Homo sapiens: one gene and its partners. The protein of the gene in region 5 purifies or fractionates together with the protein of the main gene of each other region. This does not show direct contact. Each region holds a gene or a part of one and is shown on either strand. Other genes may lie near its edges.

Region 1 (3,500 bases), on a different chromosome or scaffold from region 5:
TAGGTAACAGTGGCAACAAAATTGTTTTTTGATTAAAACTGCAAAAAATCGATGTGTAATAGAGAACTTCTTTGGATTTTTGTTTTTCTTAGGAATTAGAAATTCAAACATAAATTTGAATGGAATGATATAATTTCATTCAAATTCGGTCCTTGGATTGGAGAGTCTTTGGAGAACATTTGGGACCTATTGTAAGGTGATTCCCAGTGTTAATTTAGGTGATGATTTCCCTGACCTCCAAAATTGCAGAGTCATAGGTTGGAAAACTGTTAAGAATTTTTTTTTTTCCCCCCAAGACAGGGTCTTGCTCTGTTACCCAGGCTGGAGTGTAGTGGCTCTGTCATGTCTCACTGCAGCCTTGACTTCCCAGGCTCAGGCAGTCCTCCAGCCTCAGCCTCCTGAATAGCTGGGACAATAGGCATACACCGCTACACCTGGCTAATTTTTTATTTTTTGTGGAAACGAGGTCTTGCTGTGTTGCCCAGGGTGGAATTGAACTCAGGCTCAAGTAATCCTCCTACCTTGGCCTCCCAAATGTTGGGATTATAAGTGTGAGCCACTGCGCTCCGCTATGTTAGGAATTTGGGGAGGTCATGTTAACCTGCCCTCCAGCCCACTCCCCACTCAGGTTGGGTAAACCAGGTTCTGAGCATTTTCCCTAACCGTTTCTGGGCAAACAGCCCTCTAACCAGCATTTCTGTCCTTCACAGGACTGCGGTCAGCCTCAGGCCTCCTTGCAGGTGCCTGCTTTGAAATATCTTTATTTTATTTTAGCCTTTTCTTTCTATTCTCATTGTCAGGGACCTAGGTAAAGCTCTCAGGTCCTCAGGCCTAAATGAATGCCTTTCCCACTTGAAGTTTTAAATACCTCTGCCAGATCAGTCTCAAACTCTCTTCATCACTCTGCCTTTCCAAAACTACAATGCCTTCATATTCTGTTGCCTTTAAAATAAAAAGTCTGATATCCACAATTCAGTATTAGAATTTGAAATTGACCCCAAAAGACGCATCTAATCTTAGCTTTAGAAGTTAAGGTTATGGCCGGGTGTGTTGGCTCATGCCTGTAATCCCAGCACTTTGGGAGGCCGAGACGGGTGGATCACAAGGTCAGTAGTTCAAGACCAGCCTGGCCAACATGGTGAAACCCCGTCTCTACTAAAAATACAAAAATTAGCCGGGCTGGTGGCGCACGCCTGTAATCCCAGCTACTCAGGAGGCTGAGGCAGGAGAATCACTTAAACCCGGGAGGCGGAGGTTGCAGTGAGCCGAGATTGTGCCATTGCTCTCCAGCGTGGGCAACAAGAGCAAAATTTTGTCTCAAATAAATAAAAAAAGTTAAGGTTAACAGCACTTCCCACCATGCCCCATGGGGTGATTTTCTTTTAACATCATTTAACTTTTATCAATGTAATGCATTTACTTAGTTTTGGAAACTAAGCGGTACTACTGGGTTGTAGTGCAAGACAGCAGTCCCTCTACCAGTCGCTTGCTCCGCGCTCCAACTTCCCACAGACTACCACTTTTAACTGCTCTGTTTCTACTTATCATTTTAGTTAGGATCACATTTAGCTGCCAGTAATGGAGAACAAAGTGACAGTGACTTAAATAAAATCAGGTTGATTTCTCTCACGTGAAGTTGACGTGTCAGCAGTCAGTGCTAGTTGGACAGCCTTGCTCCAAGAGGCCTCCGGGGCTGTGGCCTTTTCCCACCCTCAGGCCACCATCTGAGACGGTGGCCATCCCACCCTCCTTCAGCCAAGCAGGCCGGGGGTGGGATGTTACTATAGAAGATCCTTGGATATTGGTGGGTGCTTAGCAATGCCTGCCTTAAATTTCATATTTCTGTGTAGCATGCTGGTACTGCTAATTTCTGATTTTACCATTTTAGACATTGCTGACTTCTGCTGTAGAAGAGGCCTTAGAACTGTTCTACATTGTCCCTCCACTGCCTGAAACACATTCACCCCTTGCTCTTTTTCTGTGTTCCAAATATGTTTATATAATTTTGTTTAAATTGGTAATTCAGTGTCTGCATTCTTATTGTTAGGTAACTGTCTTCACAGCTAAGCCATGTAAGATACAGTTTACTAAGGGAAATAGTTTTGTGTTATTGGAGTGAATTTTCTTTATTTTCTTTTCTTATAATAATCCCATGGAGTAAATTTTTTTTTTTTTGGAGATGGAGGCTCATTCTGTTGCCCAGGCTGGAGTGCAGTGGCATGATCTTGGCTCACTGCAGCCTCCGCCTCCCGGGTTCAAGTGATTCTCCTGCCTCAGTCTCCCGAGTAGCTGGGATTACAGGCACCCACCATCACACCTGGCTAATTTTTTTTTTTTTTTTTGAGACGGAGTCTTGCTCTGTCGCCCAGGCTGGAGTGCAGTGGCCCGATCTCGGCTCACTGCAGGCTCCGCCTCCTGGGTTCACACCATTCTGTCTGAGCCTCTCGAGTAGCTGGGACTACAGGCGCCCGCCACCATGCCTGGCTAATTTTTTTTTTTTTTTTTTTTTTTTTTTTTGTATTTTTAGTAGAAACAGGGTTTCACCGTGTTAGCCAGGATGGTCTCCATCTCCTGACCTCGTGATCCACCTGCCTCATCCTCCCAGAGTGCTGGGATTATAGGCGTGAGCTACCGCGCCCAGCCATGCCTGGCTAATTTTTGTGTTTTTAGTACAGATGGGGTTTCACCATGTTGGCCAGGCTGATCTTGAACTCCTGACCTCAAGCAGTCCGCCCGCATTGGCCTCCTGAAGTGCTAGGATTACAGGAGTGAGCCACCGCTCCCGGCCGAATTTTCTTTAGCTTGGTTTTCAATGTACAGTCATGAATTTAGTGCCAGGCTTTTAACTAGAACTCCTCCATTAAACACCTCACATAATCTTATCACCTTCATCCCTTCCAGGCCTGCCACTTTTCTGTTTCAGCCTGGGCCGGGTGTCCTGCGGGCCTGCTACTGAGCAGTCCTCCTTGGAGTGCTTTTCATTCCTTGCAGGGATTCTTCGTGTCTCTTTCCTCTGTTGAATTCCCCTTTCTGGATTCTGTGTCTTTCATCTTTTGGTGGAGTGAATCTTCTAGTAGCTTCCTGAGAAAGAATTCATCGGAGGTGAATTTTTTGAACCAGGTCTGTCTGAAAATGCTTTTTTTTTTGGACACAGAGTCTTGCTCTGTTGCCCAGGCTGGAGTGCAGTGGTGCAATCTTGGCTCACTGCAACCTCCACCTCCCGGTTCAAGCAGTTCTCCTGCCTCAGCCTCCCGAGTAGCTGGGACTGCAGGTGCACACCACCACACCCAGCTAATTTTTTGTATTTTAGTAGAGACAGGGTTTCACCATGTTGCCCAGACTGGTCTCGAACTCCTGAGCTCAGGGAATCTGCCCGCTTCGGCCTCCCCAAGTGTCAGGATTACAGGCATGAGTCACCATGCCTGGCTGAAAATGCCCTTTCTTCCCTCACATTTGAATGGCACTTTGCCTGCGTACAGAATTCTAGGTTGGAAGTCATT
Region 2 (3,500 bases), on a different chromosome or scaffold from region 5:
CACCATGCCCAGCTAATTTTGTAGTTTTAGTAGAGACAGGGTTTCTCCATGTTGGTCAGGCTGGTCTCGAACTCCCGACCTCCTTGGCCTCCCAAAGTGCTAGGATTACAGGCATGAGCCACCGCGCCCGGCTGCTACAAAAATTTTTTAAAAATTAGCCAGGCATGCCAGGCGCGGTGGCTCCCACCTGTAATCCCAGCACTTTGGGAGGCCAAGGCAGGTGGATCACGAGGTCAGGAGTTTGAGACCAGCCTGACCAACATGGTGAAACCCCGTCCCTACTAAAAATACAAAAATTAGCCAGGTGTGGCGGCACATGCCTGTAATCGCAGCTATTCAGGAGGCTGAGGCAGGAGAATTGCTTTAATCCAGGAGCCGGGGGTTGCAGTGAGCCGAGATTGCACCACGGCACTCCAGCCTGGGCAACAGAGTAAGACTCTGTCTCAAAAAAAAAAAAAAAAAAAAAATTAGCCAGGCATGCAGCGCACACCTGTAGTCCCAGCTACTCAGGAGGCTGAGAAGGGAGGACCAATTGAAACTGGGAGGTCGAGACTGGGAGGTCATGATCACGCCACTGCACTCCAACCTGGGCAACACAGCAAGACCCTGTTTAATAATAATAATAATAAATAATGCAAGTGGGTATAAGAATTTATTTATTTATTTATTTATTTATTTATTTATGAGACAGGGTCTCACTCTGTCGCCCAGGCTGGAGTGCACTGGCGCAATCTCGGCTCACTGCAAGCTCCGCCTTCCGGGTTCATGCCATTCTCCTGCCTCAGCCTCCCGAGTAGCTGGGACTACAGGCGCCCGCCACTGCACCCAGCTAATTTTTTGTATTTTTAGTAGAGACGGGGTTTCACCATGGTCTCGATCTTCTGACCTTGTGATCTGCCCGCCTCGGCCTCTCAAAGTGCTGGGATTACAGGTGTGAGCCACCGCTCCCGGCCCTAAGAATTTATTTTATCCCAGCACTTTGGAGGCTGAGGCGAGTGGATCACGAGGTCAGAAGATTGAGACCATCCTGGCTAACATGGTGAAACCCCGCCTCTACTAAAAAAATACAAAAAATTAGCCGGGCGTGGGGGCGGGTGCCTGTAGTCCCAGCTATGCGGGATGCTGAGGCAGGAGAATGGTGTGAACCCGGGAGGCGGAGCTTGCAGTGAGCGGAGATCGCGCCACTGCACTCCAGCCTGGGCAACAGAGCGAGACTCCATCTCAAAAAAAAAAAAAAAAGAATTTATTTTAAGACAGCAAGCTCTAGGGTTGAAGCCAGTCTCCACCTAGCCCCAGGCCCAAAGCTATAAGCATGGCTACTGTAACATCTTTACTCAGGACACCACCCTTCAGGGGCCCAGACCCACACCATCAAGGAGGAGCGTCCACACCAGCAGCTGGGGAGAGGGTGGTTCCCTACAAGATGCAATGTCCACTCTGAAGAGCCATTATAGTGATAATCATGAAATCCATGCCTGAGATCTAATTTCAAGTGAAAAGAACAGAATTCAACATTCATTCTATGGGGAGTATAAAACTCTGAAAATATACGCCTTTCATAATTAAATCAAACCCTATGTCATGTTCCTGAGGAGACAAGCACTGAATGGAACACAGAAGAAATGCTACAGCCAATGATTGTTGAAGTTTTCCTTTCAATTTCCTGTTCATGTTGTTTGGCAATAAGTAATACAGAAAACTGACAACAAAAAGCAAAAGAGAAAGAAAAGATACAGTGTACAGTTTAGATTGCTTTCCTTAAAAAATTAAATAATAATAATAAAAAGCATAGGCCGGGTGCGGTGGCTCACGCCTGTAATCCCAGCACTTTGGGAGGCCAAGGCGGGCGGATCACCTGAGGTCGGGAGTTCGAGACCAGCCTGACCAACATGGGGACACCCCGTCTGTACTAAAAATACAAAATTAGCCGGGCATGGTGACGCAGGCCTGTAATCCCAGCTACTTGGGAGGCTGAGGCAAGAGAATCGCTTGAACCCGGGAGGTGGAGGTTGCAGTGAGCTGAGATCGCGCCTTTGCACTCCAGCCTGGGCAACAAGAGCGAAACTCCATCTCAAAAAAAAAAAAAAAAAAGCATAAATGCAAGCTGGGCGCGGTAGCTCATGCCTGTAATCCCAGCACTTTGGGAGGCCGGGGCAGGTGGATCACCTGAGGTCAGGAGTTTGAAACCAACCCGGCCAACATGGCGAAACCCCATCTCTACTAAAAATACAAAAATTAGCCAGGCATGGTGGCGCGTGCCTGTAATCCCAGCTATTCAGGAGGCTGAGGCAGGAGAATTGCTTGAACCCAGGAGGCAGAGGTTGCAGTGAGCCAAGATTGAGCCACCACACTCCAGCCTGGGTGACAGAGTGAGACTCCGTCTCAAAAACCAAACCAAACCAAACCAAACAAAACAAAAAAAAGAAGCGGCATAATACAAAGTCCCGGCAGTTAAAGCGTTAACCCCCAGCTACCAGGAAGGCTCTGCTATCCAATGACTCATCGCCCCAGCCAAGGTCAGCCACACCTTGGGTCTCTGATGCTGGAGGCAACATGATGCCAACACTGGCGAGAAATCCACCACCTCCTCCTCCCCGCCCCTCGGTGCCGGCCTCTGTGTGCACTTGCAGCTCTTCCACTACCGGTGCCTCCATGGTGTCTACGCCACCGGCTCACCTCCCAGCAATAACCCGACAGCCCGACACCTCTGTAGACCCTGTGGCTACAGAGCTAAAGTTCCCTGTTATTAGTGGGTTTTGCAGACAACCCTCCAAATCCCTCTGGGTTGAGTTAGTCAAGTCCTTAACAAGCTGGAAGATGACAGGGGTTGGATGTAACCCACTTCCAACTGGCTTGGGTTACATGGACATTATTCCTCTTCTGGGATCTGATTTGGGATGGAAACAGGAGCCATAGTTCATGGGAAGGCTGTGAAAGGAAGCCCCGGCCCCAGGGTGCGGATCAGGTTGATCTGCGGAACAAGGCCCCAGGGGCGGCCCACCCGCCTGCTCTGCCCAGCCCTTCCTGGTAACCACACTCACCCGGGGCCCATCTCAAACCTGGCAGGCAATGCTGCTGCTCCCATCTCAGCCGCTGCCCCAACACGCCTCGCCTGGCCAGGACAGGTGCCCAGGCATGGCATTCAGGGACATCCTCGGCTTCCGGGGCCCAACCCCTGGTTCCCAGGTGCAGCGCTGGGAAAAGCAGAGGGCCCCGGCCATGGCGCAGGCCTCGTCACAGGTCATTTAAGCAGCCTGGGAGGAGCCGGAAAGAGAGCAATGCACCCACCTGGACAGAGACTGAAGCCACATCCCCATTGAGAAAAGATGACACTCCTGCCTGGACCCCTTCTCTGAAACCCCAGGCCGGGGTGGGGTAGGAGTCAGCGAGAGAGTCCAGCGCTCCAAAGGGGACTTTCTGGCCCTCCGTGCCCCCTAACCCAGCACTTCTGGGGACCCACACACTCAGGGCAGAGTGGCCATCCAGGGTTCCTCTCACCC
Region 3 (3,500 bases), on a different chromosome or scaffold from region 5:
GGGTACAGTGCCATCTCCTACTCTGAACCTGTCCATTTCTGTACTGCAGAGGTCCCTTGCTTTATTTTTGCTTCTGTATTTGATACTATTTTAGTTGGTGTGCTCTAATAATTTCTATCCAGAATTCTCCCTATCTCTGTCTGTAGGTCTAATGTATCATGGTGCTTGTTGTATTACAATTCTGAAGTTTATGGTCACAAAGTATCTGAAACACACCCCTTCCATTTAATTCAAGTATTACAATAAATTAAACTAAAATTTCTGGGATTTTTGTAGTTACTAGTAAAAATTTTGGTTTCTTTTGACTTAATTTTATTCTTCCAAACATGTATTCTATTGTTTGTAGTTTATTAGAAGTATAAAAGTATAAAAAATAGTCTTTAGTTGTCAGATTTTATAGCTGTAATTGTTTTCTTTATGCATCTCAAAGGAGGAAATTCTGTACCTAATGCTAAATGACGAGTTAATGGGTGCAGCACACCAGCATGATGCATGTATACATATGTAACTAACCTGCACATTGTGCACATGTACCCTAAAACTTAAAGTATAAAAAAAAAAAAAAAAAAAAAAAGAACCCTGGCTTCTACAACTCCCCTTATCTTAACTCAAGCATTTCTTTATATTGACTTCAATTCTCCAGACAAAGCTTAATGCTTTCAATCAATTCCCAATCAGGAAATCTTTGACTTGGAAGCCCCTACTTTGAAATGTCCTGACATTCTGAGCTAAACCAATGTATACCTTATATGTATTGATTTATACCTTTGCCTGTAACTTTTGTCTCCCTAAAATGTATAAAACCAAGTTGTAACTCAACCACCTCCGGCACCCATTCTCAGGACCTCCTGAGGCTGTGTCATGGGCCATGGTTGCTAACATTTGGCTCAGAATAAACCTCTTTAAATATTAAAAAAAAAAAAAAAAGATGTGATTAAGAAGTGGCTTTTTAATATTACTTTGTTTTTGTGGATACTATCATCTGATTCCAAGCATGATGAAGAAAATTGGATTTTAAAATTAAATTTTACGGCTGGGCGCGGATCACTTGAGGTCAGGAGTTCAAGACCAGCCTGGCCAACATGGCGAAACCACATCTCTACCAAAAATACAAAAATTAGCTAGGTGTGGTGGTGCGTGCCTGTAATCCCAGCTACTCAGGAGGCTGAGGCAGGAGAATTCCTTGAACCCAGGAGGCGGAGGTTGCAGTGAGCTGAGATCATGCCACTGCGCTGGCAACAGAGCGAGACTCTTGTCTCAAAAAAAAAAAAGTTAAATTTAATTTTAGGATCACAGAGGGATAATCTGGTTGATCTACATACAGTGCTTTATATTTTTTATAGCTCTCACATTTTTCAAAGCACTTTATCTATGTTTTTTCATTGGGCATTCACAAAAAGCCAATGAAGCAGGGCAGTGTATATTGTATAGACTAAATAGCATATGGTTTTCAACATAATTTATAACCTTAGTTTCTAATACTCTATATTCATTTCTTTTTTTCCTGTTTTATATGTAGCATTTTTTAAATAACAAAAACTTTGTTAATGCCTGTTTTGTACAGAATTTCTTATCAGCAACTACAGGGGAGTTGGGGGACAAGGCTTGAATATGAGAAACACAGCATACATAGCAGAGAAAAGGCAAGAGTCAGTTTCCTTAAGAGATCCAATATTCACAATTGAAGACAGAGTTAGATATAGGATATGTCATTTCATTTCATTACGTGTTGGTTAGCCCCATCCTAAAAAATAGAGGATTAGACAAAATAATTTCTAGGGTCCTTCTAGATTTTCATGACAATTATTTTGTTGCATGATTAGTATTTGCTGATGTACTGTGAGATGTTTGAGTGCCAGTGGTTCTATTGCAATAGAATAAAGCAATGATCCATGTTGCATGGCGTTAGTTGTAGTCTGAAGATGTGAAGGTCTTCAGGTAGAAGAATCAAGGTTCTTCTAAGCAGGAACATCAGGAATGGAATCTGATACTTCTCTTGGAGGAGAAGGGATTCTTAGGGGAGGTTTGCATGATGTGGTTCAGTTCATGAAGGGACTGAAAAAGTTGGGTTTTGATCACATGGGGTGACAGTATCAGTTGTGGAAAATTTTTGTGGTGATTATTTACGTGTAGGACATTGAAGAAGTGGAATAAATGAGGTTGGTTTGGTAGTAGAAGTAATTAAAGGATATAAGGATATAGAAGACAAAGCAAATGTTTTTATAAATGCAATGAATATAAAGTAAAATCTATATCTGTAACAGGCATGACTTCTTAAAGTAGTGTCTATTCTTCAAGAAGGGAGCATGTCTTAGTGTTCAAGTAAGTGTTCAAGTAGTGTTGAACACTTACTTGAACTTAGTGTTCAAGTAGAACTACAGTTTATAAGAAGCAAAACATTCCTTACTGATAAACAGTATTGGTTCATCTCCCTCTACAACATGGATTTGCTTACTTACATTATAGTCACTTGCTTTGAGGCAGTGTGTGTTGCATATATAATCTAGTTTATCCAGTGAACACTAAGACAGTGTTCAACAATAGGGCAGAATATTTCTGCAATATTTCCTTGGAGTTTTCTCAGTCTTTTGCTCTTCCATTTTTCCATTTAGAACTGCCCTCATGCTAGGTTGCGAATATGGTTGCAGAGATGCAGTAGAAGTCTTAATTAAAAATGGTGCTGATATAAGCTTGCTGGATGCGCTTGGCCATGATAGTTCTTACTATGCAAGAATTGGTGACAATCTGGACATTCTAACCTTGTTGAAGACTGCATCGGAAAATACCAACAAAGGTATCAGCAGTTTTCTGTAACTAGAAAAGTCCACATTAACAAAGAGCCACTTTTTAAAAGACTTAGGTAGTAGAACTACAGTTTATAAGAAGCAAAACATTCCTTACTGATAAACAGTATTGGTTCATCTCCCTCTACAACATGGATTTGCTTACTTACATTATGGTCACTTGCTTTGAGGCAGTGTGTGTTGCATATATAATCTAGTTTATCCAGTGAACACTAAGACACTGGAATAACTTCAGAACTGAGAAGGAAGAGTCAAGTGTTTTACTAAGTTTTTTTTTTTTTTTGATGAAGAGGGGTGAACCTCCCAACTTTTTATACTTACGAAGTTTTAAAGAATCATTGTTTAAACATGTATGTAAAATAGTCAGCTGATATTTACCAAATGCCTATGCCATGATTTTTTATGTTTTTTTTAAAAAAAACAGGAACATACAGAAAAGCACAATGAATAGTCACTCATTACCACTGAGAAGCCTCTGTTAACATTTTGAGAAATATCCTTCTAGTCTTTTCCCATTAAATTGAATTCACTGTAAATCTGAATTGTAGCTTACTTTTTTATGTAACCTATTTTGAAGGCCTTTCCCTCAAAAATAGTTTTTCTATAGTATGATTTTTGTTGGTGTATGAGATTCCATTTATTTAAGTTTCATTTAATAAAGCAGTTTTCTACATGTAGTGTTTAAGCTATTTATAA
Region 4 (4,037 bases), on a different chromosome or scaffold from region 5:
TATCTGGCGGTCTTGATTTGAATCTACTAATCATCTTTCGGCCTTTTTTTTTCTTTGCTGAAATGTATCTAAGAGCTTAGAAGTAGCATTCTGCTCATTTCCCCCCCACCCCCAGGAGTGCCCCAAGCTTTCTTGAGCTGACTGATTGTAGATGTTCTTTTTTTTTTGTTCCCCAGTGTGTTGCCTGTGAGTGTGACCTCGGAGGCTCTTCCTCAGGAGCTGAAGTCAGGATCAGAAACCACCAACTGTACTGCAACGACTGCTATCTCAGATTCAAATGTAAGAGAGCAAATCAGAGAGAAAATTTCTTGCCTTTTAAGGAGGCCACGGGTTCCCATGCATTTCCCTGAACCTGCAGCGAGCTCCCCTCCAAGTTCACTGCCATAGGATTCCAGGTTTCAAGAATTGTAGTGTGTTCCCTTCAAAGAGTGTGTATAGTGAATGGGTCACTGCTCAGGGTTCCAGCTACACAGGAGTGGGTTGTGGGGCCAAGGAATGGAGAGGAACAGTGTCCAAAAGTCAGGATGGTGTCTTGTGTTATCTGCCCAGAGTCCGCAGAGACCTTTAATGACTCAAGAATACAAACAAACCAAAACACTTAAATGAATCTTCTATGTAGGATTTGTTTCTTGACTAAAGATTGGTCCCTCATCAACTTCTATTATTTAACAATGGGCTTTGATTATGTGATTTAGAATATGACCAACTTTAAAAAATATTGTTCCATGTAATACAAAATAAGTCAGTTTATGCTTTATGTTAATATATGTCAATATATAATTTTAAAAGGAAAGTATTAACTATGGTGTTTCAGTGTCATTTTTGGAAAAAATGAGTTTTTCAAAAAACTTCAAATGCTACTTTGCATCTAAGCATGTGTTTGTGTGTTATAAAAGGTAGGCTAGCATAACTAGGTTGTGTGTTGTGTATAGCTACAGCAAGACAAGTATTACTGCTGTTTTATATTTTAAACCTTGATGCTGGTAACATGTGTTTCTTCCTTATTGTGAAAGGGTGTTACAAGTGGTATCAGCAAAATCATTTGCTTTTGAACTCTGAGGTATTTATATGGCCCCTATGTGAAGAGTGCTTTGGAAATGGTTTAAGCCCAGTCAACTCTCTTTTATCTGTCGGTGGGTTCTGAGCCTTCCTGCTGCAGCTGTCCAGTCCTTTCCTGGATGCTGACACTGAGGTTGGAGAAAGTCAAGGCTGGGCATGTACTGGTGGGGGGTGTGTGTATGTGTGTGTGTTTTTCTCTCTCTCATCAAATTCCAAAGCCAAATAGAAATGATTTCTGGAATCACCATTGTAAAATTGCCCATGCCTTTTCTCTCCTCCAAAACAAATAATAGAGAGTTGAGTGTAATTTATTTCTATTGTGAGCAGTTCATTTTTACTCCATTTTTACAAATAAAGAATTCCAGAGACGAGACACTGAGACTTGCCTAGCTTTATCCTAAGAGTGAGTGACAGGTTACTCTTTCTACCTCATTGGGCCACTTTCTGAGTGATGACTGCTATGTATCCCAGATGGCAATATTCACGTTTCTGAATCTAAGCACTTTTCTTTCTTTTCTCCTTGCCCGATCAGCTGGACGGCCAACCGCCATGTGATGTAAGCCTCCATACGAAAGCACTGTTGCAGATAGAAGAAGAGGTGGTTGCTGCTCATGTAGATCTATAAATATGTGTTGTATGTCTTTTTTGCTTTTTTTTTAAAAAAAAGAATAACTTTTTTTGCCTCTTTAGATTACATAGAAGCATTGTAGTCTTGGTAGAACCAGTATTTTTGTTGTTTATTTATAAGGTAATTGTGTGTGGGGAAAAGTGCAGTATTTACCTGTTGAATTCAGCATCTTGAGAGCACAAGGGAAAAAATAAGAACCTACGAATATTTTTGAGGCAGATAATGATCTAGTTTGACTTTCTAGTTAGTGGTGTTTTGAAGAGGGTATTTTATTGTTTTTTAAAAAAAGGTTCTTAAACATTATTTGAAATAGTTAATATAAATACATAATTGCATTTGCTCTGTTTATTGTAATGTATTCTAAATTAATGCAGAACCATATGGAAAATTTCATTAAAATCTATCCCCAAATGTGCTTTCTGTATCCTTCCTTCTACCTATTATTCTGATTTTTAAAAATGCAGTTAATGTACCATTTATTTGCTTGATGAAGGGAGCTCTATTTTCTTTACCAGAAATGTTGCTAAGTAATTCCCAATAGAAAGCTGCTTATTTTCATTAATGAAAAATAACCATGGTTTGTATACTAGAAGTCTTCTTCAGAAACTGGTGAGCCTTTCTGTTCAATTGCATTTGTAAATAAACTTGCTGATGCATTTAACGAGTGGGTCGTCTTTTTCTTAGGTGTATGTGTCTGACCTCAGGCCTTTTAGCCATATTTCAGTATGTGGCCTTTTTTGATGTTATGTTTTATCCAGTAGCTTTACTAAGGTATAATTGATGTAATAAACTGCATATATTTAAAGTGTATACTTTGACAAATTTTGACATGGTGTATACCTTCGAAACTATGCCACAGTCTGGATGTGTTTACTGAAACATTTTAATAAGGAAGTTTATTTTTGATAAAGTTATGTTTTTGGATACAATATATTTGTATGGTGAGAGTGATGAATTGTTGGATCATTTGAATAAAATCTTTTACTAACCCCATGATAAAAGGAGAAGACAACAGTGAGCTTAGAATATCTATAAAGCAAAAAATGTAGTCTCTTGTTTAAAAAATCTGGAGCGGGAATGCAAGGATACAAAACTTTAGCATGCTTTGAGCAAAAATTTAAACTTACTGGAATCTTTTATAATAATGTAAGTGGAATGGAGGATTCTAGGAACTGAGAACTGTATTGGAATAGGTTCAAAATATGTAAGAAATGCTAATGTGGGAGATAAAAATTTTATTTAGTACTTATTCTGATTATTATTAAAGTAATAATGTGTTCCTTGAGGATAACTTGTCAAATGCCCCAAAGCATAAAGAATATAATTCTGAATCCCAAATTCCAAAGACAAGAACTCTGTGTTTGAATTCATTCTGCATATAATTATTTATAAGTATAGATTGTGAATTTTTCCATGTTCTTAAAATTATTTTTATCTTTTTTCATGGTTGCATAGTGCTCCATTGTTTGGCCTTGGTAATATTTAGTTGATAATTCCATTACTGTGTATTTTTCACTTGTTTCTAAGATCAAACATTTTAATATGTGCATGTTATATATAAATATGTAAATTCTGTGATACTCTATGATCATCTCTTTCTTTATATTATTTTCATAGACATGAAATAGTTGCTCAGAGATTATGCATTTTAAGACACTCATAGTATATATTGCCAAAGTGGTTTCCAGAAAGGCACTGCTGGCTTCGACTCCTATAAGCAGCACGTGGGCTTGTTCATCTCACTGCATGTTTATGAAGATACAGTTCTTTTGCCTTGTTCTCTGCCTGATGTGTATGCAGAGGCAGCCCTCAATATGCAGTGGTTGAATAAATGAATGAAGAAACCACTATCAATTTCTGCCTTGTTAATTCTGTTTTCCACTGTCCCCAGAGGATGCCTTAATTCTGCCATCATTTTCGTTTCCTTATCCAAAATCCTTTCTGACCATTGCTCCTTTTCATCTAAGCCTTTTGTCTTTTCATCTGCTCTTGTTTTCTTATGATTTTTTCCCCCATTTCTCACATTATCTTACTTAGTGATAACATTTCTGTTAGTACAAATTATAAGTACAGTTTTCAGAGCTATTTTCTTCTAGGATACCGGCTCTACATTTGTATAAGCCCTTGGGTATTTGTTACTTCACCTAGGAACAAGGGAAGAGTCCAGCCCTTCAACAAATTTTTTAATTCATACTTTATGCTCCAGGCACTGCTTTTGGCACCATGGGTAGAACAGTGAAGAAATACAGTCTTGGCTCTGATTGGTCTTATTTTTCTGGTTGAGGGAGGTGATAAAACAATACATGAAAAAATAACATGCAGGTGGCGATGAGAGCAACAAAGAACAAAT
Region 5 (3,500 bases):
CTGTTCACTGGATCTGTTTCCTTGTTTTTCTTTTTCTCTCCCCGTTTCCCTCTCTGTCCCATCCCACCTCCCTGTCCTCTTTTCTACCCCTCACTGTTCCCCTGCAGGGAGGGGTAGAAAAGCCTCTGGCCTTCACTTGGGGAGAGAAGGCCAGAAAGGCTTCCTGGAGGAAGGGCTGTCCATCCTCTCTCTCAGGCACTTTCTACTTTTCAATCCTTATATACAAAAGACCTTTTTTTTTTATTTTTTTATTTTTTTGAGACAGGGTCTAGCTCTATCACCCAGGCTGGAGTGTAGTGGCGCTATCACAACTCACTGCAGTCTCGACCTCCCAGATTCAAATGATCCTCCCACCTCAGTGTCCCAAGTAGCTGGAACTATAGGCGTGCACCACCATGCCTGGAGAATTTTTTATATTTTTGGCAGTCTCGCCATGTTGCCCAGGCTGGTCTCCATCCAACTCTTAGTCTCAAGCGATCCTCCCGTGTTGGCCTTTGAAGGTGCTGGGATTACAGATGTGAACCACTGCATCTGGCCTAAAGAAGATCTTTCCAGCAGTAGAAACTGTCCAGCAGGCCGGGCGCGGTGGCTCATGCCTGTAATCCTAGCACTTTGGGAGGCCGAGGCGGGCAGATCACCTGAGGTCAGGAGTTTGAGACCAGCCTTGCCAACATGGTGAAACTCTGTCTCTACTAAAAATACAAAAATTTAGCCAGGCGTGGCAGCAGGTGCCTGTAATCTCAGGTATTCAGAAGGCTGAGACAGGAGAATCACTTGGACCTGGGAGGCAGAGGTTGCCGTGAGCCAAGATCATGCCATTGCACTCCAGACTGGGCAACAAGAGCAAAAATCCATCTCAAAAAAAAAAAAGAAAGAAAGAAAGAAAGAAAACTGTCTAGTAGCGGGGTGAAATGTCTTGCCCCATAGTCCAGCTCCCCATCAGGGAGACAATCCAACAAGGTAGAGGAATCATCTTTCCTGAGTGTTGAGGGTGATTTGAACTTCTCCATTTGGGCAAGAGTGCATGATCTCTGACCCTGGGATTTTCCCAATATGCATTGCTCCACAGCTCAAGGTGGTTTCAGGATTCCCTGCCCCCACCCAAGCCGTGTATTTACAGCTGTAGAGCTAGGCCTCATGCAAGAGCAAATGTATTTGAAGATAAAATATTTTTCTTGTGAGAAAGAAATCTTTATAAATTTTTATTCTTTAATTTATTAAAAAATGCATCATAGATGTACATAGTTTCAGGGTATGTGATCATTTAATATGTTTATATAATTTGTAAAGAGCAAATCAGTGTACTTGGAATATTTATCACCTTAAATATTTGTCTTTATGCTGGAAACATTCAAATTATTCTCTTCTGGTTATTTTATTTATTTATTTATTATGTATTTATTTTTTAGAGGCAGAGTCTCACTCTGTCAACCAGGTTGGAGTGCAGTGACACGACCATAGCTCACTGCAGCCTGGAACTCCTGGGCTCAAGCAATCTTCCTGCTTCAGCAAATACCTGGAACCACAGTGATGCGCCAACAAGCCCAGCTAACCTTTTAAATTTTTTGTAAAGACGGAGTCTCAATATATTGCCCAGGCTAGTCTTGAACTCCTGACTTCAAGTAGTCCTCCGGCCTTGGCTTCCCAAAGTGCTGGGATTATAGGTGTGAGCCACCATGCCTGGCCTCTTCTAGCTATTTCAAAATGTATAGTCCATTATCGTAAACTATAGTTGCCGTACTGATTTATCTAATATTCGGTCTTATTTCTTTTTCTTTCTTTTCTTTTTTCTTTTTTTTTTTTTTTTTTTTGAGACAGAGTCTCTCTCTGTTGCCCAAGCTGGAGTGCAGTGGCCATGCAATCTCAGCTCATTGCAACCTCTGCCTCCCAGGTTCAAGCGATTCTCCTGCCTCAGCCTCTTGAGTAGCTTGGATTACAGGCACCGGCCATCAGACCTGGCTAATTTTTGTATTTTTAGTAGAGACAGGGTTTCACCATGTTGGTCTGGTTGGTCTCAAACTCCTGACCTCAGGTGATCTACCTGCCTCTGCCTCCCAAAGTGCTGGGATTACAGGTGTGAACCACTGTGGCCGGCCTTGTTTCTTTTATCACAATGTATATCTGCACCCATTAATCATCCTCTCTTCATTGCCACCCCCTTCCCACCTCTGGTAACCACCAGCCTACTTTCTATCTTCATGAGATCCACTTTTTTAGCTACCACATATGAGTGGGAACATGCGATATTTGTCTTTCTGTGCTTGGTTTATTCACTTAAGATAATGACTTTCAGTTCCATCCGTGTTGCTGCAGATGACAGGACTTCATCCTTTTTTATGGCTGAATACTATTCCATTGTGTATATATTGCCACATTTTCTTTATCCATTCATCTGTTGAGGTGTACTTAGGTTGAATCCATACTTTAGTTATTGTGAATTGTGCTGTGAAAAACAAGGTGGTGCAGCTATCTTTTTGATGTATTTGGTTTTCTTTCTTTTAAATATCTACTCAGTAGTGGAATTGCTAGAGCATTTGTTAGTTCTTTTTTTTTTTTTTTTTTTTCCTTTTTTGAGACAGGGTCTCATTCTGTCACCCAGGCTGGAGTGCAGTGACACAATCATGGCTCACTGCAGGATTGACCTCCTGGGCTCAAGCGATCCTCCTGCCTCAGCTTCTTGAGTAGCTGAGACCACAGGTGCAGGTCCAGCTAATTTTTTTTTTTTTTTTTTTAGATACGAGATCTTGCTATGTTGCCCAGACTGGTCTTGAACTCCTGGCCTCAAGTGATCCTCCCAGTAGTTCTATTTTTAGTGTTTTAGGAACCTTCATACTGTTCTCCATAGTGGCTGTACTATTTTACATTCTCACTGACAAGAGTTCCCCTTTCTCTGCATCTTTGCCAACATCTGTTATTGCGTGTCTTTTTGATAAAAGCCATTTTAACAGGGGTGAGATGATACCTTGTAGTTTTGGTTTGCATTTCTCTGATGATTATGATGTTGAGCTTTTTTCATATACCTATTGACCATTTGTATGTCTTCTTTAGAGAAATATCTGTTTAGATCTTTTGCCCATTTTTAAATCGGATTATTTGGGCTTTTTTGCTATTTGAGTTGTGTGAGCTCCTTATATATTTTGGTTGTTAATCCTTTGTCAGATGAATAGGTTGTACGTATTTTCTCTCATTCTGTGGGTTGTCTCTTTGTTGATTGTTTCCTTTGCTGTGCAGAAACTTTTTAGACTGATGTAGTCCCATTTGTCTATTTTCGCTTTGATTGGCTGTGCTGTTGAGGTCTTATGCAGAAAATCTTCCCCTAGTCCAATGTTCTAGGGTATTTCCCCAATGTTTTATTCTAGTTGCATCATAGTTGGAGGTCTTAGATTTAAGTCTTTAATCCATTTTGATTTGGCTTTTGTGTATAGTGATAGATAGAGGTCTAGTGTCATTCTTCTGCATTTAGTTATTTAGTTTTCCGAGCACCATTTATGGAAGAGACT
Region 6 (2,880 bases), on a different chromosome or scaffold from region 5:
ACTGGGGAAGGTGGAGGATAGAATGGTTCAAGTTCTAGAATATGTGGCTCTAGATGAGAGGTTGAACTGAATCATCAATCCTACATGGATTGGGTCTCCGTATTCAAGTCTACATTAGAAATCCCCATAAACTCAATTCAATTCTTACTGTATGTTCTCAAACATACAGTTCTATTTTAGGTTTGCAAAGAAAAAGAGCTCCTCTTTTAGATTCTGAGAAGTTTCTACTATTTTTGGCAAGTAATAGATAACATATTCTGACTATGAGTGGGTAGGGAAGTACCTTTAAATTATATGCCTCAGTTTCCTCATCTGTAAAATTGGGATAATGAGATTTTCTACATTTTAGGTTGTTGTGGGGATTAAGTGAAATACAGGTAAAGTACTTGGTCCACAGTAAGTGCTTAATAAGTGTTAAAGTGTTAGCTGCAATATTATTCTGGATGGAAGAGTTTCCCCCCATGTTCAGCATGTAAGATATCCCCTATGGCATGGTTCCTTCTGAACTATAAAGAGGATCCCTTTACTCATGTTGGGTTGTGGTCTTTGTGACCATCATTCTGCTAGATCCCTTGTCTCTTGAACTCTAATAGTCATCTTCATGACTACATGGTTAAGTGAAGCCAAACGCCTTCCCCCCGCCCCCTATTCCTATGAATCTGGCTTTTCTGCTCTGTTTTCATCTTTCTCTGCATTCACACAGGTGCTCCGTTCACAGCTAACAGAATGTTATCTTACCTCTTCCTGGCAAAGCTTACACCTTCATCTTCTGTCTGAAGGGACCCTTCTAAGCTCTAGGCTCATTAGCAAAGCAAAGATAATCGATGCATGCAGACCTCATTGAATAATCAGTCATCTCTCAGTTCAGTTTACCACCTCTGTTCATTTCCCTAGATCATCCTTAATACACCACTCCTTCGAGTTTTCTTCTTCCACATAAGATATTTTTTCACAATCTCATTATTATGCACATCATAATTTTGCATCATGCATGCATGAAAACAATAACAAACCTTTTTCATTTAAAAAAAGACCAATGTCATTCATTCACAGCCAAGTTTCTGTTCTAGACATATTTCTAGTGTTCTTGTGGGTCTAGCTAAGGGAGGGTCCAGGGTTAATGAAATATCCCTGATTTTTCGTTAACAAAACCTTTGTGGACTCAGGTGGAGAGACTTATCCAAGAACGTGGCTGGGAGTTCATGTGGAATGAGCGTTTGGGATACATCTTGACCTGTCCATCTAACCTGGGCACTGGACTTCGGGCAGGAGTGCACATCAAACTGCCCCTGCTAAGCAAAGTAAAGGAGTTGTGGGGTTACAGAGGGGTGTGAGTAAGGAAGGGTGGGTTGTGGATGGGGAGGGAGTGGACCCTTTGGAAAGGAGCCAAACATGTTGTGGCTAAAGGGTCAGAGGACAGGCCAGGCACAGTGGCTCATGCCTCTAATCCCAACACTTGGGAGGCCAAGGCAGGCAGATTACTTGAGCCCAGGAGTTCAAGACCAGCCTGGGCAACCTGGTGAAACCCCATCTCTACTACAAATACAAAAGTTAGCTGGGTGTAGTGGAGGCTGAGGTGAGAGGATCACTTAAGCCTGGGAAGTCGAGGCTTCAGTGAGCTGTGATCACTCCAGCCTGGGTGACAGAGAGAGACCCTGTCTAAAAAAAATTAAAAAAGAAAAAAGAAAAAAGGAAAAAAAAAGTTCAGGAGACAGAGCTCTGAGCAGGTTCAGGGCTCTTTCAGGTAGGACTAGTCTCTGCCTCTATTGACCCTGCTCCCAATCCCTATCTCCTCTCTAGGATAGCCGCTTCCCAAAGATCCTGGAGAACCTAAGACTCCAAAAACGTGGTACTGGAGGAGTGGACACTGCTGCTACAGGCGGTGTCTTTGATATTTCTAATTTGGACCGACTAGGCAAATCAGAGGTGAGATCCTAAGGGATTAGGACAAGGAGAGGTATAGGTCTGCGAGGGCCGAAATATGGCAGTGAGTGAGCCTCCGGGATGTAAGATAATCTGAAATGAAATTCAGGTTGAGTGGGGAGGCAATTGGAAATGAGCAGGCAAGTCAGTCAGTGATAAAGAAAAACTCAGACTGTAGGAAGCAGATCAAAGATTAGTGTCCCTTAGGTGGAGCTGGTGCAACTGGTCATCGATGGAGTAAACTATTTGATTGATTGTGAACGGCGTCTGGAGAGAGGCCAGGATATCCGCATCCCCACACCTGTCATCCACACCAAGCATTAACTCCCCATCGCCAGCTGATGACTCAAGATTCCCAGGAGTTCTGCTCATTCTAATGATGGCCCATTCTACTTGCTCTGGACCTGCCCCCGCATCCCCTGCCTCCATCCTAGTAAAGACTCCTTGCTATGCTGCAGCTGTCTGTGTTACTTCTAATGGTGGGGTGAGGAGGGAGCAGCCTTCAGGAAATGAAAAGAGGCAGTGGGATTATTTATGATGGAAAGAGACTCCAGATATGGCAACCCAGGAACACTGATTCTCAGGTGGGTGGAAAGCATTAACATTTTACCCATATTCCTCATCAGCTTCTGAAAATAATCAGGATGCACTTCTGTTTGCACTTTATTCATTATGACTTAAGATTTCTCTCCCCACAATCTCCTTCTACTGTAGAGACAGGCTCATAGCAGGTGGCCAAGGAAGCTGATAGTCAATACCAGGGACCAGGAAGGTCGTGACCAGTCCTGGAGGCCCCAGGCTGTACTTCGACCTATAATAGACAGGGAATGGGAGTAATATCACAACTCAGCTCTCCAGGAGCATTGATACTTGGAAATTAGCGCTCTGCCTGTAGACTCCTTCACTCCAGGGATCTCCCTGGGTGCACTCTAAGAGCCAGACAGCACCAAATTAGGG
Region 7 (3,500 bases), about 22 Mb from region 5:
CCAAGAGTAGATTAATCCCACTCAGTATTTTCAGATGCATCTGGTGTTATTTCAGTTCCAGTTTGTTGAATCTTGGTGCATCTGACTTGTCCCTTTCTAAACTAGTGACTTGCCCTCTCGGTACATAGATGTGGTCACCCTTCATTGGCATCTGGAGATTTTCTTTGCATGTGATTTAGGTTGGGTTCCCTTTTTCCGGTGTCTCATGCCTTTCTCCTTATTTATTCTCTTATTTTGGTACATCTTCCAGTAGCTTCCTGAGAAGAGGGTTTGTGGATTGTTAATTTTTCATGACCTTGCAGGCCTGAAGATGTCTTCATTCTACCCTCTCACTTGATTAAAATAGTTTGGCTGGGTAGAGAATCCTGAGTTGCCATGGTTCTCCTTAAGATTTTTTAAAAGGACATTTCTTCATTGTGCTGTGACTTCGAGCATGGCTGTTGAGTTTTCATGAACATTTTGAGTTCTGATCTTTTCTGATTTGTGATCTATTTTTCTCCTCTTTGTGGAAGCTTGTATCCTATTCTCTTTCTCTCTAGCATTCTGGTGTAATTTGAAGATAGTCATGTGATTTGAAGTTTTCATGTGTGATGCTGGGCCCCTGTCAATTCTAGGAGCTCCCATCCTTTAGTTCTGGGAAAATTTCTTGAATGATTTTGTTACTGATTTTTTTCCCCTCCCATATGCTGTGTTCTCTATTTTGGAACTCCTATTCAGTCATTCAACAAATGTTGAGTGAGATTCTACTATTTAACATGCACTATTCTAGGCACTGGGATATTTCAGTGAATAAATTAGTTTAGAAAAAAAAAATTCCTGCCTGAGAGGCATTCTAGTAGGAAGACATCAGACAATATTATATGATATGTTAGAAGGTTTGTGTGAATGCATTTATTATATGTGTTTCTCTGGCTACTTACAGCAGCATAGGGGCAGGCATGGAGTGGGTAGAGAGCTAGATTTTACTAGGACAGTATTAATGGGGCAGGAGAGGTGAGGGAGTATGTAAGAAAATGATTATAATGATGGACCTTGAAATTAAACTGGATGAAGAGGATTCGGGAGATATTCAGGAACACATCAAGGTATAGTAGAAAGAAGATGTAATCTGTAGATTAGTGGTACCAGTGTGGTTGAAGGGTTGTTGGAATTCGGGTCTAGAGAGAATGACCTGGAAAGATGAGGAATAGTGGTTAGAGAGAGGATACATGGAACTAAATTGTGTAGGGATTACAATTGTCTAATGATGAGATCTGGTATATGACTGTGGGAGTGAGTAGCTGAGGGCAAGAAGGGATAGATAGCAAGATCCTTGGAAGGGAGGTGGGTTAGTCCATTTTTTGCTTCGCTATAAAGGAATACCTGAGGCTGGGTAATTTATAAAGAAAAGATGTTTGACTGGGCACAGCAGCTCATGCCTGTAATCCCAGCACTTTTGGAGGCTGAGGCAGGTGGTTGAGGTCAGGAGTTGAGACCAGCCTGGCCAACATGGTGAAACCCCAACTCTACTAAAAATATACAAAAATTAGCCGGGCATGGTGGTGGGTGCCTGTAGTCCCAGCTACTTGGGAAGCTGAGGCAGGAGGGAGGTGGAGGCTGCAGTGAGCCAAGATTGCGCCACTGCACTCCAGCCTTGGGTGGCAGAGTGAGACTTTGTCTCAAAAAAAAAAAAAAGGAAAAAAGAAAAAGAAAAAGAAAAGAGGTTTAAACTGGCTCATGGTTCTGCAAGCTGTAGAGGAAGTATGTTGTCAGCATCTGCTCAGCTTCTGAGCTCAGTTTCCTGAGGCCTCAGGCCAGGCTGGTCTTGAACTCCTGACCTTAGGTGATCCACCCACCTCGTCCTCCCAAAGTGCTGGGATTACAGGCATGAGCCACCGCGCCCAGCCAGCCTCAGGAAACTTCTCATCACGGCGGAAGGTGAAGGGGCAGCAGGCACGTCATATCTCGAGCGGAAGCCAGAGAGAGTGGGGAGGTAACATACACTCTTAAACAACCAGATCTTGTGTGAACTACCAGAGCGAGAACTCACTCATCACCAAGGGAATGGTGCAAAGCTATTCATGAGGGATCTGCCCCATGACCCAGATACCTCCTGCCAGGCCCCACCTTCAGCACTGGGGAATACATTTCAACATGAGATTTGGAGGGGACAGACATCCAAACCGTAAGAGGAGATATACCAGAAATTGAGAGATCATTTGTAAGGGAGATCCTCTACTTAGATGTACATTGAAATTGCCAAAAATTAAGACAGGAATAGTCTAGAGGGAGTGCAAGTTGGGAGCTATTTAATAAATGGTGATGAAGGAATGGGATTTTGGCAATGATAAGTAGTTAGTGTATATAATTTGAAGAGACGAGATTAAGACCTGGGACTTTTAGGGAAGATGGAGGGAAAATACCAGCAAGGAAAGCAAGAGGACACCTATTCCATTTCTAGATTCAGTGGTAGGAAGCTGTGGAAGTACAAAAAAAAAAAGGGCCGGGCATGGTGGCTCATGTCTGTAATCCCAGCACTTGGGGAGGCCAAGGTGGGTGGATGACTTGAGGTCAGGAGTTCAAGACCAGCCTGGCCAACATGACGAAACCCCATCTACTAAAAATACAAAAATTGGACGTGGTGGCATGCACCTGGAATCCCAGCTACTCGGGGGGCTGAGGCAGGAAAATCGCTTGAACCCGGGAGGCGGAGGTTGCAGTGAGCTGAGATCATGCCACTGCACTCCAGTCTGGGCCACAGAGCGAGACCCTGTCTCAAACAAACAAACAAAACAAAACAAAACAAAACAAAAACAGTGTTTGAGAGAGCTGCAGAAGCAGCAGGAGAGGGTTATCAGAGCACGAGGGTAAAGGGGGGATGCTCAGAAAAGACTGAGGACAGAGGGTGTTTGCTGATGATGGACTGATAATTCTAGAGGGCCCAGTGGAAAAGTTTCAGGCATTGGGAAAGGTTAGGAGATGAAGGTTAGTGGTCGTACAGACCCTTGTGAGGAAGACTGCAGAGGAAGGATATGACCCTTTGTGAGATGCACATAAATAGGAATGATGGAGATACTGAGATTTGTCCTGGTTCCCTCAAGGCAGCTAATGATGGTGACCCTGTGTGTTGAAAGGGCAGAGGTGCCTGGGAAGTATAGAGTTAGTCCCAATATAGAGCTTACCCTTTTCCCATTGGGGAGTGGCAAACTTAATCTTAGTGCAGAGGCCTCCCTTTGACCCCTGTTGGTGGAGTTAAGGACAGCTGGGGAAGCCATCTCTATGTATCCAATTATTATTATTATTATTTTTTTTTTTTTTGAGACAGAGTCTCGCTCTGTCACCAGGCTGGAGTGCAGTGATGTGATCTCCACTCACTGCAACCTCCACCTACCAGGTTCAAATGATTCTCCTGCCTCAGCCTCTGGAGTAGTTGGGACTACATGCGCGTGCCACCATGCCCCACTAATTTTTGTAGTTTTAGTAGAGATGGGGTTTCACCATGTTGGCCAGGATGGCCTCGA

The links.
Region 1: the proteins of FGD5 (region 5) and CDC42BPB purify together in Homo sapiens (affinity purification with mass spectrometry, with the first as the bait; one large-scale study listed by BioGRID). This does not show direct contact.
Region 2: the proteins of FGD5 (region 5) and SEPTIN9 purify together in Homo sapiens (affinity purification with mass spectrometry, with the first as the bait; one large-scale study listed by BioGRID). This does not show direct contact.
Region 3: the proteins of FGD5 (region 5) and UACA purify together in Homo sapiens (affinity purification with mass spectrometry, with the first as the bait; one large-scale study listed by BioGRID). This does not show direct contact.
Region 4: the proteins of FGD5 (region 5) and LMO7 purify together in Homo sapiens (affinity purification with mass spectrometry, with the first as the bait; one large-scale study listed by BioGRID). This does not show direct contact.
Region 6: the proteins of FGD5 (region 5) and CKMT1B purify together in Homo sapiens (affinity purification with mass spectrometry, with the first as the bait; one large-scale study listed by BioGRID). This does not show direct contact.
Region 7: the proteins of FGD5 (region 5) and LRRFIP2 purify together in Homo sapiens (affinity purification with mass spectrometry, with the first as the bait; one large-scale study listed by BioGRID). This does not show direct contact.

The regions. Positions count from the first base shown.
Region 1 is NC_000014.9:103,047,550-103,051,049, reverse strand, and holds part of CDC42BPB (serine/threonine-protein kinase MRCK beta), read left to right. Parts: intron 1-3,500. UniProt on the Homo sapiens protein: Serine/threonine-protein kinase which is an important downstream effector of CDC42 and plays a role in the regulation of cytoskeleton reorganization and cell migration. Regulates actin cytoskeletal reorganization via phosphorylation of PPP1R12C and MYL9/MLC2.
Region 2 is NC_000017.11:77,287,999-77,291,498, reverse strand, and holds part of SEPTIN9 (septin-9), read right to left. Parts: exon of another isoform or gene 3,289-3,500; intron 1-3,288.
Region 3 is NC_000015.10:70,683,559-70,687,058, reverse strand, and holds part of UACA (uveal autoantigen with coiled-coil domains and ankyrin repeats), read left to right. Parts: intron 1-2,612; coding exon 2,613-2,794; intron 2,795-3,500. UniProt on the Homo sapiens protein: Regulates APAF1 expression and plays an important role in the regulation of stress-induced apoptosis. Promotes apoptosis by regulating three pathways, apoptosome up-regulation, LGALS3/galectin-3 down-regulation and NF-kappa-B inactivation.
Region 4 is NC_000013.11:75,856,330-75,860,366, forward strand, and holds the end of LMO7 (LIM domain only protein 7), read left to right. Parts: intron 1-176; coding exon 177-279; intron 280-1,591; coding exon 1,592-1,614; coding exon of another isoform or gene 1,615-1,684; 3' UTR 1,685-3,537; downstream 3,538-4,037.
Region 5 is NC_000003.12:14,891,962-14,895,461, forward strand, and holds part of FGD5 (FYVE, RhoGEF and PH domain-containing protein 5), read left to right. Parts: intron 1-3,500. UniProt on the Homo sapiens protein: Activates CDC42, a member of the Ras-like family of Rho- and Rac proteins, by exchanging bound GDP for free GTP. Mediates VEGF-induced CDC42 activation.
Region 6 is NC_000015.10:43,597,027-43,599,906, forward strand, and holds the end of CKMT1B (creatine kinase U-type, mitochondrial precursor), read left to right. Parts: intron 1-349; exon of another isoform or gene 350-1,166; coding exon 1,167-1,301; intron 1,302-1,800; coding exon 1,801-1,926; intron 1,927-2,130; coding exon 2,131-2,247; 3' UTR 2,248-2,380; downstream 2,381-2,880. Other genes in the region: STRC (stereocilin precursor), read right to left, coding at 2,646-2,734. UniProt on the Homo sapiens protein: Reversibly catalyzes the transfer of phosphate between ATP and various phosphogens (e.g. creatine phosphate).
Region 7 is NC_000003.12:37,059,583-37,063,082, reverse strand, and holds part of LRRFIP2 (leucine-rich repeat flightless-interacting protein 2), read left to right. Parts: intron 1-3,500. UniProt on the Homo sapiens protein: May function as activator of the canonical Wnt signaling pathway, in association with DVL3, upstream of CTNNB1/beta-catenin.